3 linked regions of the Homo sapiens genome follow. The protein of the gene in region 1 interacts with the protein of each later gene in a pairwise test. Each region holds a gene or a part of one and is shown on either strand. Other genes may lie near its edges.

What was found. The genes of interacting proteins can lie anywhere in the genome.
Region 2: the proteins of PEX6 (region 1) and ATF7IP interact in a two-hybrid assay, tested with the Homo sapiens proteins (one large-scale study listed by IntAct).
Region 3: the proteins of PEX6 (region 1) and ACOX3 come close enough for resonance energy transfer, tested with the Homo sapiens proteins (one large-scale study listed by BioGRID).

The regions. Positions count from the first base shown.
Region 1 is NC_000006.12:42,969,034-42,974,443, forward strand, and holds part of PEX6 (peroxisome biogenesis factor 6), read right to left. Parts: intron 5,054-5,410; coding exon 4,970-5,053; intron 955-4,969; coding exon 852-954; intron 769-851; coding exon 635-768; intron 1-634. UniProt on the Homo sapiens protein: Component of the PEX1-PEX6 AAA ATPase complex, a protein dislocase complex that mediates the ATP-dependent extraction of the PEX5 receptor from peroxisomal membranes, an essential step for PEX5 recycling.
Region 2 is NC_000012.12:14,493,727-14,498,181, reverse strand, and holds part of ATF7IP (activating transcription factor 7-interacting protein 1), read right to left. Parts: intron 1,952-4,455; coding exon 1,839-1,951; intron 529-1,838; coding exon 109-528; 3' UTR 1-108. UniProt on the Homo sapiens protein: Recruiter that couples transcriptional factors to general transcription apparatus and thereby modulates transcription regulation and chromatin formation. Can both act as an activator or a repressor depending on the context.
Region 3 is NC_000004.12:8,367,724-8,372,178, forward strand, and holds part of ACOX3 (peroxisomal acyl-coenzyme A oxidase 3), read right to left. Parts: intron 3,272-4,455; coding exon 3,185-3,271; intron 1-3,184. UniProt on the Homo sapiens protein: Oxidizes the CoA-esters of 2-methyl-branched fatty acids.

The DNA of each region.
Region 1 (5,410 bases):
AGAGTCCCCAGTAACACAAGATCCCTTAGATCTAGAAAGCAGATACCCTGTTTTTCTCTCCTTGAGCCTCCCTGACCCCAGGACAGGGCTGTCCCCATGTAGTGAGGCTGTGTCTCCCACACCACCTGCGGTGCTCTGGCCGGGGCATCCAGCATATCCAACAGCCAAAGACTAATTAATTCCCTTTGGCATTGCTGTGCTGCCAATAAAACCTCAACGTTATGACTGGTCTGAATGGTATTGAGAGACATTGTGGTGGCACTGAGGTGGGGATCTGCGTCCACACCTGGGCCACTGGTATGAGGAGTTGTGTCCTTCAGGGCCAGGGCAGTAAAGTGCAGGATGGCCAGTGAGCTCCCCAAGGGGAAGGGCAGTCTCAGAAACAGATGCCCCTGCTGGAGATTCTTCCTCCAGAGCCAGCCCTGGAGGACAGAGGTTATCCCAGGAAAGGAGCCTGGGAATTGGCTTACAGAAAGGAGTGGCCTGGTGGCCTTGTGTAGGACATACTGGTTTGAGGAAGGTCCTCCCAATCCCACTCTGGCCAGTTCATTAGGAACTACCCATCTGGCTGCTGCTCCTCCAGGGATGTTCTAAGCAGGCTTTTCTCACACCCTGGGGTGATGACCTCACTCACCCTGGCTGGAGGCGAGGCTTCAGGACAGCACAGAGTTCAGACACCAAGGCCTCCAGGCCTGGAGGAGACAAACTGCTCCAGAGAGTGGATTCCTCTGAAGGGAGCCATGGAACAGGGCTCAGGGTAGAACCCACCTGTGAAAGGTAATAAAAAGCTTTCGTTTCTAAAAATCGTTTCTACCCCCTGCGCTGGTCTACACCCATCCTTGGGGCCTCACCATGTACAAGGAGGTATGGGTGGTGTCGGCCAAGTAGGCACTGGCTGGTCCATCTGGAGCTTCCCCAACTGTTTTCTTCACTTTAAAAAACATTTCCCGCCACCTGCAGGAAAAAGGCCCAATGAACCCCAGATCCAGAGTCCAAAAACCCCCCTCCTCAAGGACAAGGTTTCTCAATCACAGAGGACAAACAAAAGCACCACAAGAGCGTGTCCCGAGTCATGGTGGGGAAAAGGAATGCAGATGGACTTTCTCATCTTCCTGACAGACCATACACACCTTGAGGGCAAGAGCTATGCCTGTCCCTCTGCATCCCCCATGACAGCCATGAGAGCTCTGAGGGGGTGTGTTTCTCCAGGCATGTGGCCTACCCACCCACACCAATGGGAGAAGCTGCTGCTGCACTAAGCAGTGGATCATCTGATTACTTCTACTGGCTTCGGTCTCCCCCTCAAATACACAGCCATCCAGGCCCCAAAAACCCTAGGGGGAAGGGTCCCTTGGCTCTTACTCAATAATCCACAAAATCTCATTGCAGGCGGAGTCCTTAATAATGCCATCTGATGAATAATGGTTCTGTATTCTGGCTGCACATTGGAATTATCTGTGTAACTTTAAAAACTAAACATTTCTCACATATTATATGATTCTATTCAGCAGATCAGCAGTTGCCATTGCCTATGAGGGAAGCTACAGGGAATGACTGCTAATGGGTGCAGAGTTTCTTTTTGAGATGTTGAAAATGTTCTGGAATGAAACAGTGATGTTGGCTGTACAACCTTATGAATAAAAAAATTGAATTGTATACTTTAAAAGTATGGTTTTATGGTGTGTGAATTTTATGTTTTTAAAATTAACCTTTCTCCTTCCTTTGTGAAGGAAAAAAAGCACAGGCTCCAGTCTCACCCTGATTCTGCCCCAATAGATCTGGGGTGGGGCTTAGGCACCTGTATTTTTTGAAAGCTTCCCCAGCAATTCTGATGCATAACCAGGGCTGCGCAGTAGTTGGCGAGTGTCATAGTGAGTTAGGGTTATTCAACCTACTAACGGGGAATAGGATGGGTAGCAGGAACAGCTACTAACCCAATTTTCCAGATAAAGAAATCATGAACTACTTCCCTCTTTAATCCTCAGGCAGCAAGGCAATGACAGAGTCAGGCTATAACCTAGTCCTCTTTAAGGTCCAATCAGGCTGCAAATTCCTCTGCTCACACTGCCCCACAGTCTCAAAGCTGCTCTCTCTAGCAGCAAAGGGGTGTGAGAGTGCAGCAAGGTGGAGGGGAAGCATACCAGGTTAGTATTATGAAACTCTTCTAAGTACTACAGTAAACCTGGAACATCAGGAAGCCTGAATCTGCCTATAATTAATTATAAATAGGTGACAGTGGGCCTCTAACCTAGGATCTCGATCAAGCTCAACAGCTGAGTCATGGTGTGTATGACTCACCATGGAAGCCCTGCATAGGAATGAGATGGGGGACAGCACTGTGGCATAGGGAGAGACCACCTTCTTCAGTGGAGGGTGGTTGGACCACCTCAGTGAATAGAAAGGCCAGAGCTCTGGAACCTATGTGGACACTGCTAAGGAACACTGAGCTGTGCTCCAGCCAGCCAGATAGGTGATAGTGGAGCTGGCTCCCATGCAGCCTGGTTTGGGGAAGTGGAGCACCAGGGACAGGATGAAGAGGCTACACCAACAGTGGAATTCCTTTCCAGGGCTCACAGGAACTTCTGCAGGGCTTCCCTTCTCAAGCCCAGTGCAGCTTAAAACGCTCATCTGTATCTGTCCTTGGACCCATTGGGCCACTTACTCCAACCCTGCTTTCCTTGCGGGGAAAAGAACTATGTGCTCGGCACTCAGGAGGAAAGCAGGGTTCTACAGAGTTGAGACAATAGAAGTTCAGGAACAGAACTGGCTTGCCAGCCTGTCTCATGAGGTTCTAGTGCCTATTTTCCTTTGAAAGTACAAAGAGTGGGCATTCTGTAGTTTTCCTACTGAAAGCTAGCTCAAAGACGTTTGCTAAATTTATGATAGGAGAGAGAGGTGGGAAGTGACTGCTAAGTGCCAGCCTGGCATTTTCCACCAGACTCGTGGACTTAATCTGGAAAACCTCGAAGAGGTGACATGGAGCCTAAATGGGGTTCCACAGAGCACCACCACCCTGAGACTGGGGGTACTGAGCACTGGCCAGAACCAAGCACTGGATATTGACCAGGGATGAACATCAGGCACTCCAAACAAGGACTGTCTCTCCTGGCAGAGGACCCAGGCTGGCTATGCCACAGACCTTGGACATGAAGGCTCTTATGTATGAGTTAGTGCATCTATCAGCTGTGCTCTCCTTCTAGTAAACTGCTGCAGGAAATGAGTCCAGAATACAGGGAATGCTGGGATACAGAGCTATACATTTTCCTCCCTACACATAAGGCTAAAGCAGTGTCTCAATTCTTTGCCTCACCATTTTACATGGAACCTCTGTGGTCAGAGTCAACAAGAGGAGAAAAGCTGGATTCCTTATTTTGGGTTCTTGGCTCGGTTATGCTCTATTTCTCATTCTCTGTTGATAGGACAGGGTAGCCCTCTCAAAAACAATAGAAATCCCTGGCTGGGTGCGGTGGCTCACGCCTGTAATCCCAGCACTTTGGGAGGCCGAGGCGGGCGGATCACAAGGTCAGGAGATCGAGACCATCCTGGTTAACACGGTGAAACCCAATCTCTACTAAAAATACAAAAAATTAGCCGGGCGTGGTGGTGGGCACCTGTAGTCCCAGCTACTTGGGAGGCTGAGGCAGGAGAATGGCATGAACCCGGGAGGCGGAGCTTGCAGTGAGCCAAGATTGCGCCACTGCACTCCAGCCTGGGCAACAAAGCAAGACTCTGTCTCAAAAAAAAAAAAAAAAAAAGAGAAATCCCTCTCCTGTTTTCAGAGATAGGATTGAGAAGTAGTTTGTGCACACTCCGTAGTTAAGGCAGAAATCAGAGCCTGTATATCCTTACGTTGAGATATGGATGGTATGGCCCAAGTCTTGGTCCAAATAACACGAAGGCTAAGAACGGAAAGGAAGGAATCCCGTCTTGGTCTAGGCCATTAAACTCTTCTTTAAAAAGAAAAGAATTTAAATTTTACCTATTTATTTATTTTTTGAGATGGAGTCTTGCTGTGTCACCCAGGCTGGAGAGCAGTGATGCGATCTGGGCTCACTGCAACCTCTGCCTCCCAGGTCCAAGTGATTCTCCCGCCTCAGCCTCCTGAGTAGCTGGGATTACAGATGCCCACCATCACACCCGGCTAATTTTTGTATTTTTAGTAGAGACAGGGTTTCACCATATTGGCCAGGCTGGTCTTGAATTCCTGACCTCAAGTGATCTGCCTGCCTCAGCCTCCCAAAGTGCTGGGATTACAGTCGTGAGCCACCACACCTGGCCTAAACTCTTCTTAGTGCTTTGCTTTACATAGGGCCACCAGTCAGTTTGAGGATAAACACCTCCCAAAGCCAGCAGGGAGTGGTTCTTTTAGTTTGCTTGTTTTTTGAGACAGTGTCTAGCTATATTGCCCAGCCTCCTGAGTAGCTGGGATTATAAGTATGCACTACCATGCCTGACTGGTTCTTAACCTTTCTTCAGTCATACACTTGTTTGGGAACTGAAGGACAGGTGAATTTTCTCTCCAAAAAAATGTACACAGGCTGGGGGTGAGTGGTGCACACCTGTAATCTCAGCACTTTGGGAGGCCAAGGCAGGCAGATCACTTGAGCTCAAGAGTTCGAGCCCAGCCTGGTCAACATGGCGAAACCCTATCTCTACTAAAAATACAAAAACCAATAGCTGGGCGTGGTGATGCGAACCTGTAGTCCCAGCTACTGGGGCAGAGGCAGTGCTGAGGTGGGAGGATCACTTGAGCCATGGAGGTAGAGGCTGCAGTGAGCTGTGTTTGCACCACTAAACTCCAGCCTGGGTAACAGAGCAAGAACCTGTTACACACACACACGCACACACAAAATACATGACAACGAAATCCTCTTGGGCACAAATTACACATGATTTGCAGGGAGGGGATTGTAGAACTCATGCACCCAGGTTACAAATCCCAGCTGTAGGACAGAAGGCAGCTGCATACCTGGGCAGTTTCTCTGGACTTCCTTCCAGGATCTCTACTTGCCCAATTGTTGGCACACATAGAACATCCCCTTCCTGGACTACCCTGCAACACAGCAGTGGCCCTGGTCAGGTCACAATGGGAGTAATGAGCATGTGTTCATTACCACATGTCCACCCCCGACATGCAGACTACTTCTTGAGTCTACTGCCCGCCCAGAGATCCCACGCAGTTCTCCAAGGAACAAGTCAGTCTTAGGATGAGCTAGGGGAAATGGTGGAGAGACTAGAAAGGGGGATCAGAGACAGATGAGTGGCAGAGCAGGATCCTGGCTCTTTTGGAGCCCTCTTTAATCACAGGTGTCTCTGTTTGGAATGTCCAAATTAACCTCATGGTTCAGATTTCTCTTCTGTGGTCTCCCTGATATACCAAGAGGCGCCTACCACAATCTGTCTGAAATGT
Region 2 (4,455 bases), on another chromosome or scaffold:
CAAGAAATCTTGCACAAGGTGGATTTTACATGGGGTATCATGCACAAGATTAAAAACAAGACCAAAAGGTGGAAATTTTAAAAGAGGAAAATATAAAGGCTCCAAGGTTTAACTGCTCTGGGTAGAAGAGATCACATCTGTTGACTGAGGATCACAGAAAGGCCCAAAACGTCCATAAATATCCTTGGCTCGTACTGCAAAGTAGTATTTGCTACCAGATACAAACTGGGTGAGAGTACATGCCATGGGCAAGGGAAGTGCCTTGACTTCCCCAATCTTTTTCCATTGTGAGGGCACAGTGGCACTGGGTTCCTCATGGTAAGCATAGAGATGGTAGCTATCAACAGTGGCACAGCTTCGATCCACCTCCAGGACACTCCATGACAGTACTATGCCATTTTGACTCTGAACGCGTGCTAACTTCAAGTGTGGCTTCTGAGGCAGAGATGTGCTGGCAGCTTCTGGGGGCAGACGCTGTGGTTGTGGAGCTTCTGGTAAGGGTGCTGGGTGCACGGGGCGTGGGGGCTCCTGAAGAAACAGGTCACACTGATTAATGATGATTGCAAAAAGAACTATTTTAGAATGTTAGAATTAAAACACCTTAGAGAACATACGTAGAAGTATCATTTTATATCAAGAATTCTAGGAAATACCAAATACCATATCAAATTTGGCAAGTTCTATTTGGGGTTTTGTAATGAATCATGCTACAAACAATGATGCTGAGGTTATTCCTACTATACTTCCTAGACCTAAAATATTTTGAGTTTTTCTTAGGAAATAAAAAGCCCCTGCTGACGGAACATCATTTTGAGGAACACGGAAGTAATGATCTATTTCTAACAAAATAATTTATGATTGAATTATCTATGTTACAGATTATCATTTCAGTATGATGTAACATTTTTAAATATCATGTATGGCAACCAAGATCATATAAAATTGGAGAATACAAATATACTTTCATTTTTAAGTTATTTATAAATAAGCACATTAACACTAAATGTGTACTATATTCTTGGCCAATTTACAAGAAAAAGGTGATATTTAAACTCAACTGTGAAGGAGGATCCAGAGATGCAGAAATAATCATGTACCTTTCAGCCAAAAATAAAGCATGAGCAAAGGCATGTGGACAGTAAAGTGAGGGGACGTATGGACAAGAACAAGTATTAACTTTTTCTTGGACATAGGGTACATGAAGAAAAATCTGGAAAGGTAGGTTAAGGCCAGATGATGAAAAAACATGACTCTAACTTTAGGAAGTCCTATTGACTTTTCTAACACTGGAACATCATCATCATTATAATGATATTTCATACCAGTCAAACACTGACAAAATTGTGTCACAGGATAATGTGACATTGTTTTGGAGGCTAAATCTAAGGAGAAATCTTTGGTTATCTCTGTTACCTCTTAACTAATGAATTCCCAATATCATTGGATTCTTTAGAACAATTAATTGATGACAATGTAGCAGTTAGATGTGGCATAGTTTAGAACGAAAGAATAAAATTAACACATGGAGAAATGAAAAATGTCCTTTTTAATTTAACTATGAATTAGAAATGGTCTATATTTCACTTCATATACCCCAACTGTGGACCTGTTTTTGTACACTGTACACCACAAGCAAACTCAATGATTCTAAATGATCATCATCCCTAGGAACTATGTGTTCATAATGGTAAGATCAATTTTTAGAAATAAACTTCTGAAAAAGCAGGAAGACCTAACACTTCCCTTGGATATAACCATTTTAAAGAAAAATGCCAAATACAATAATATTTTATACCTCTACAGTTGAGAATTTTGCAAAACCAAGCATCAACACTTACAGTATGCACTTGTGGTGGTCGGTGATGCACTGTGAGCTGAGGTCCTGTTGATCCCAGGGTTAGTCCATTGTTTACAACATATGTGGTTGTTTGAGGCACTCGAACTGTAACACCTACAAACAAACAAAAAAATTACAGGATAAAATGATAATTCTATTGTAAATTTGGTGGAAAACTGATTAAATATTTGAAGGCAGTGAAGCAATGTTTTCAAGATTCGAAAGGAAAGATATTTCTAACCTAGAGGTCCTGTTCGTATTCAGCCAAGCTATCAATCAGCCTGTGGATAAAAAAACTTTCTTACATGCAAGCACTAAAAAAAAATTCTAACTACCACAAACCCTTTCTCAAATAGTCAATGGAGAATATGTGCCACCAGTACGTGAGAAAATAAAGAGAAAAACACGAGACACAAGCAACAGGAGGTCCAGCACAGGGAGAAATAAATGGATCGTTACCAGGAGAACTATGAACAAAAATCCTAGAACACTGGTTGTGTACCACATGTAAAAGGTAAATGGCCATAATGGAGCAGTGTGACTCAAAAGACAGACAAACTGGGAGTATCTTCATAAAAATCTCTGCAGTCTCATCTTTTCAACCAGGACAGAAAGCCAGAATAAGTCATCCTTGCCATGTATTAATGAGGTTCCTCTCATTTTCTCCATGCCCAGCTCCTTGGTTGAGGATACTCACTTCACCCCACAGAAAACTGCTGTGACATACACCAGGGAAACAAAAAGAGAAAATTTAGAGCCACCTACTGCCCTAACTATATTCCTGCCATTTATTCAGTACCTGGCCCATGCTGTAGTTCGGCCTGGTTCCTGGACTATAGTGAGCCAAGTTTCCCAGAACTCATTTCTAACCTTGTTGATTAATTTTCCCAGACAACGCTCTTGTAAACTTGAGAGAGTTGAAGCCAAGCTATGATCCAGGGACTCCAATCAGTTTATTTTCTAAATGATAGCATTACTGTGTTTCTTTAAATAGCTATATTTTCCCTTGCTGTCACATTTTGCAAAACTACAACATATGTGTGATGGTTAATACTGAGTGTCAACTTGATTAGATTGAAGGACACAAAGTATTAACCCTGGGTGGGCCTGTGAGGATGTTGCCAAAAGAGATTAACATTTGAGTCAGTGGACTGGGGAAGGCAGATCCACCCTTCATCTGGTGGGCACAATCTAATCAGCTGCCAGAAAATATAAAGCAGGCAGAAAAACGTGAAAAGGAGAGACAGGCTTAGCCTTAGCCTCCCAGCCTACATCTTTTTCCTGTGCTGGATGCTTCCTGCCCTGGAACATTGGCCTCCAAGTTCTTCAGTTTTGGGACTCAGACTGGCTTCCTTGCTCCTCAGCTTGCAGACAGCCTACTGTGGGATCTTTTTTTTTTTTTTTTTTTTTTTGAGACAGAGTCTGGCTCTGTTGCCCAGGCTGGAGTGCAGTGGCATGATCTCGGCTCACTGCAACCTCCGCCTCCTGGGCTCAAGAGATTCTCCTGCCTCAGCCTCCCAAGTAGGTGAGATTACAGGCTTGTGCCACCACACCCAGCCAATTTTTGTATTTTTGGTAGGGATGAGGTTTCACGATGTTGGCCAGGCTCATCTCGAACTCCTGACCTCAAGTGATCTGCCTGCCTTGGCCTCCCATACTGCTGGGATTACAGGCGTGAGCTACCATGCCCAGTCTATTGTGGGAACTTCTGATTATGTAAATTAATACTTAATAAACTCCCCTTTATATATATAAACATTCACTATATATAAAGTATTTTACATATATTTAATATTTATATATAATTAAGATATACTGTATATATATAGTAGGATATAAAGTATATATACAATTAGTTTATATGTAGTATATATTTTATGTATATACCCTATTAGTTTAATACATATATAATATATAAAATATATATATCCTATTAGTTTATATATAGTATATATTATATGAATACTATATATAGGAAACATATGTGTATATATACATATACACACACACATATATATATATATATATATATATATATATATATATATATATATATATATTCTATTAGCTCTGTCCCCCTAGAGAACCCTAATTCAGATTTTGGTACCAGGAATGGGGTCCAGAGGAACAGAATATTAAGGATGGAGTTCTTTCATTGGTTTTGGGGTTTCTGGAGTTGGCTGCTTAATGTGATTAGACCCAAAAATGTTAAAAACTCTAATTCTAATAGTATAGAGAACACTGATAGTCCCTGGTGTGAACTGTTTAGAGGGTTATGCAAAATAAATGCATTTGACACTCCTGATTCACTGCTTGTGGGAAGCAAGGAGTTTAGTGACTCTATACATAATACCTTGGACCATATGTGGAGAACCAAGGAACATAATGAAGCTGGTCAGTTGCTCCTAAGTGCAGTGGAAAAAGTGATGAAAGAAAATGATGAACTCAAGGATTCTGTCTCTCAGCCTCAGAAGAAGATACTGAGGCTCAAAACTGCTAAGATTGCCCTGAATGAGAGTCTTATCTCCTGTAGAGAGAGCGCTGAAGTTGTGGAAAAACAGACACAAGCTCTTATCATGCGAGTGTCTGACCTGCAATGAAAGATACATGCACAGCCT
Region 3 (4,455 bases), on another chromosome or scaffold:
CTCTGGGAGGCTGAGGAAGGCAGATCACTGGAGCTCAGGAGCTTGAGACCAGCCTGGGCAACACGGCGAAACCCCATCTTTACAAAAAAAAAAAAAAAAAAAAAAAAAAAAGCAAAAAATTAACTGGGCATGGAGGAGTTCACCTGTAGTTCTAGCTACTTGGGAGGCTGAGGTGGGAGGATCACTTGAGCCCAGGAGGTTGAGGCTGCAGTGGGCCGAGATTATGCCACTGCACCCCAGCCTGGGTGACAGAGTGAGATCCTATCTCAAAAAAAAAAAAAAAGAACTGATCGTGGCAGTGGACACGCTGTTTCTTAGTAACTGCAGCCACCGCAGGATGCTGCAAGGCTGCATCGACTGCTGCTCTGAAATCTGCTCTCACACCCCAGGCCGCTACAGGCCGCACAGGTGGCACGTGGCCACCAGCAGCAGGATGCCCTCGCCGAGTGGCCCTTACTGGCTGATTTCTGGACCTGGGCCACCACACCCTGCTCCTCTGGTCCTGCCCCGGGCCAGCACTCCCCTACGGGAGGTGCAGACTTCACTGCTCTCAGCCTAAGTGGCCTCACTGGGAAGATGGGGAGAGACGCTCCTGTCTTGGAGGAAGGTTGTACAAATGAAGGGCGAAGGGCAGCTGAGCAGACACTTCACCCGTGCAGGGTGGAAAGGGGCAGCCCAGACCATCTCCAGGGCCTGGGGAGGTGGTCTATTGTGTATCCAGCTTACGCTGACCCATTTTATTGAGAAGAAACCCCTCTGCCTGCACCCGCTAAATGCACTTAGCAACCCCTCCTCCCCACTCTGCTACTCTGGGCTCCACAGACACAGACCCAGGCTGCTGCTCCACAGGGCCTAGGTTCCAGCTTATGTTTCACAGTTTGGAGCAGCGGGCTTGATTTAAGGATGGTCTCAACTCCCCTGCAGCTCTGTTTGTTCGCTTATAGTGAATTTCTCACCTGGCAGCTCCTGGTTAATACACCAGTTCCTTGCAACTGGAAGGAATGCACTTTTTTTTTTTTTTTTGAGATGAGGTCTCACCCTGTTGGCCAGGCTGGAGTGCAGTGGCGCGATCACTGCCCACCACAGCCTCGACCTCCCCAAGCTCAGGGGATCCTCTCACCTCAGTTTTTGTAATTTTTATGGATGGGGTTTCAGTATGTTGCCTAGGCTGGTCTCAAACTCCTGGGCTAAAGGGATCCGCCCGCCTCAGCCTTCCAAAGTGCTAGGATAACAGGTGTGAGCCACCATGCTCAGCCAGGAATGCACGTTTAATAAACCATCCTGCCAGCGACACCTCCAGCTGGCTCTGGTTTTAACTATGGAACCCAGAGCCAGGGGGCCCCTCCATCATGGGCAAGGTCTCTCCTTTCCTTGGTCGTTCCCTGCCTCAGAGACGGGCCTGCCTCTGCAGAGCAAGGCACAGCAGGTAGACGCTCAAGGCCGCTCCGGCTTCTCCTGCACGGGGCAGACAGTCCCGTGTGCTTGGGGGTCCTCCATGGCGGGTCTGGCTCCAGTGTCCCTTCGAATGCCTGTCTGCCTGGTGAGCCCCCACCTCCTGGGGAGACTGCCTCTCCCAGGAAGGTGGGTAGGGCAAGTCCCTCTCCTATGCGCTCCCCCAGGACCCAAGGCTCCCGCCAAGTCTTCTCTCCCTACAGCAGGGCACAGTCTCTTCAAATCCTGGCTCTGCCACTCCCTGGCTGGGAAACCCACTGGGCTTCTCTGGCTCTCAGCTCTCAGCGGCAGTCATCATCTGGGCTGTATGGGCTCTGGGGATGGTCAGTGGTCAGTCCCCGATGCAGGACAGCAGGCCCTCTGCAGAGATGACCATCCCTGCCTCTCCTACTACGGGGAACTCTCACCTCCTGCCCTGCCCACCCGGCTCCTGGCACTACCTGCCTCTTGGCACACCTAGCCCAACCCAGGTGTAGCCTGGGCCGCGCTGAGGCCAGGCGCTGGGCCCTCCCTGGCTAAGCCGGTAAGGGCTCATGTACAGACTTCAGCATTCCCTGAGGACTGAGGGAGGGTCCTGCCCACTAAGGCTCAATCTCCATTTGGGCAGAGACCCAGGTGCTTCAGCAGGTGCTTCAGCAGAAATAACTCAGTTGCGGGGCCAGGGGGCAGGGATGGGGTCAAACCCCTCTGTGACTCACAGCCAGGGGACCTCAGGCATGGGACATGAGCATTGACACGCCGAGTCCCTCTAGCAGAAGACAGACACAGCCCCATAAGCAGTGGGGTGCTGGAAGGCACCCAGTGGACCTGTGAGCATCGCTCCTCGAGGGCATCATCAGGTGGGAGGGAGACACAAGGTCAGTGATGAGGCCAGCAAGGGCAGCACTACAGTGCCTGGGGGCACTGCCTCAGCTGGAGGCCAGAGAAGGCCTCTCCAAGGCAGCAATAGTCAGCTTATACTGAAAGAATGGAAGGCACTCCAGGCAGCCCGAGCAGCAGGCACAAGGCCCTGGGGTGGGCATGGGCCTGGCGCGACAGACGGGGAGGCCAGTAAGGCTAGATCTGGTGGGCAGGAGGGGAGCGTGGGGTGAAGGGCCTTGGAAGGATTCAGTGGCTGTGTGGGGCTGGGGCGTGGCAGGCAGTCGAGGAGGCTGGTGGAGGCTCCCTCAGGGGGGCGGCCTGACCCCATCTGCTATGAAGGAATCATTATGGAACATGGGGGGCAGGAGGAGAGCTGAGGAGCCACAGGGAGGCGGTTGGGGGAAAGCGGGGCAGGGGAGAGTAACCCCGGTGACAACCATGGATGGTCAGAGGGGACAGAGGGGCCTGGGGATTCCAGGACAGGGATGGGGGAAGAGGCCTGCAGGGCCAGGAGCATGGTCAGATGGGGGTAAGACCTGGGACCGGGGAGGCCGGGGGGAGTGGGAGGAGGGCAGAGGTCACAGTGTGTGGACCTCCAACCTCTGCCTGTGCAGGCGGGCAGTGCCACCACCCCATCTCGGGAGGAAAAGGCAGGCAGGGGATGGGCAAGTCCCCTGCAACCACAGAGCCAGCATGGGGAAGCACCAGAGTGAGACAGTCCTGACTTGTCCCGGGCCCTCCCCAAGAAGCTCCTCCATGTGTGACCACTTTCCAGAAGACACCAGACCCCTGACCCACAGGAGCATCTCAGCTCCGCAGAAATGCCCATCAACCCTTGGGGCACTCCCGTGAGGCCCTGTCCTCCCTTTACCTCGCCGTCGGCTCTGCCAATCGGTGAGTCCAGAACAAAGTCAGGAGGAGCGATCACGTCTACCAGGGCAACTGCATCGTCTTTCAGCTGTTGGAAAACAAAGCCCAGACACTTGGCACCTCCCGGGAATTTCCATGGTGACCAAAGCATAACAGCCCCGTGTGTGGTTGCCAGGACCCACTAGCAACGGGTCACCTGAGCGGCACGTGCGGCTCTGCTGCCCATGCGTGATCTCTTCACCGGCCTGGATTCGAGGCCCTTGCTGTGCACTGGAATGTTCTCACCATGCTGCTTTTCACTCAGGACTTCTAGGGCTTGTTTCTTCCCAACAAGGTAGAAAAGGCCCTTAAAAGTGACGACCCTGAAGCTCGTGAATTAGCAACTGCATTCAGAGGCTCGTTTCTAAGCCTTGGCTTATCTGGGCAACTGCTGTTCCAGTAAAGGAAAATATGTTCAGAAAACATGTAATAGAGAAGGCATTTATGAGCACTTGGAAAAGCCATAAGCATATGAAGCCTCCTCGGTTGGCGGTGGTTTTATTACTCTCCCATTCCACTGGACAAATTATTCTTCAATATGACACATGAAATTTATATGAGTGGACTCTCAAGAATTTTCTTAAGATGCAAAACAAAAATTATCCTTAAAATATGATGAAATGCCGTGGCTACACTGCATAGAACCCAGGAATGGGAGACACCGCTAATGATATGGATCAAAGGCAATCAGTCAGTACAGAGTAAGAAAGGCCACAATGGAGGAACTGAGTGCACCTCTGCGCTTCAGCGCCGCGCTCTGCAGGGCGTGGCCACCTGGTCCTGGTCCACGTGCCTCAGCACAGAGGCCGCAGACAAATGCCACTGCTCCCGGAGAGAAGCTCTCGGCAGAGCACAGGCGCTGAGCCCGACAAACGTGTTCCGTAAGGGTCCAGGTGGGAGATGTTACCGGCTTTGCGGGCCACGGTCTCTGGCAACTGCCTACTGTGCCGTGGAAGCACAAAGGCACCCACAGACGACACTCAGGTGAACGGCAGGATTGGACTGAGTTTGCTGGCCCTGGTCTAGTGGATGGCTGGCAACTTCTCCACCTGGCTGACCTTGGCCTCCCCAAGACAGTGGTATGGATGGGCACACACAGAGTGGCACACAACGGTCATCCAGCCTTGGCCATAGCCTCACTGGGAAATCAGTTGTGGCTGTCATTTTTTTGAGACGGGGTCTTGCTCTGTTGTCCAGGCTGGAGTGTGATGGTGCAATTACGGCTCACTGCAG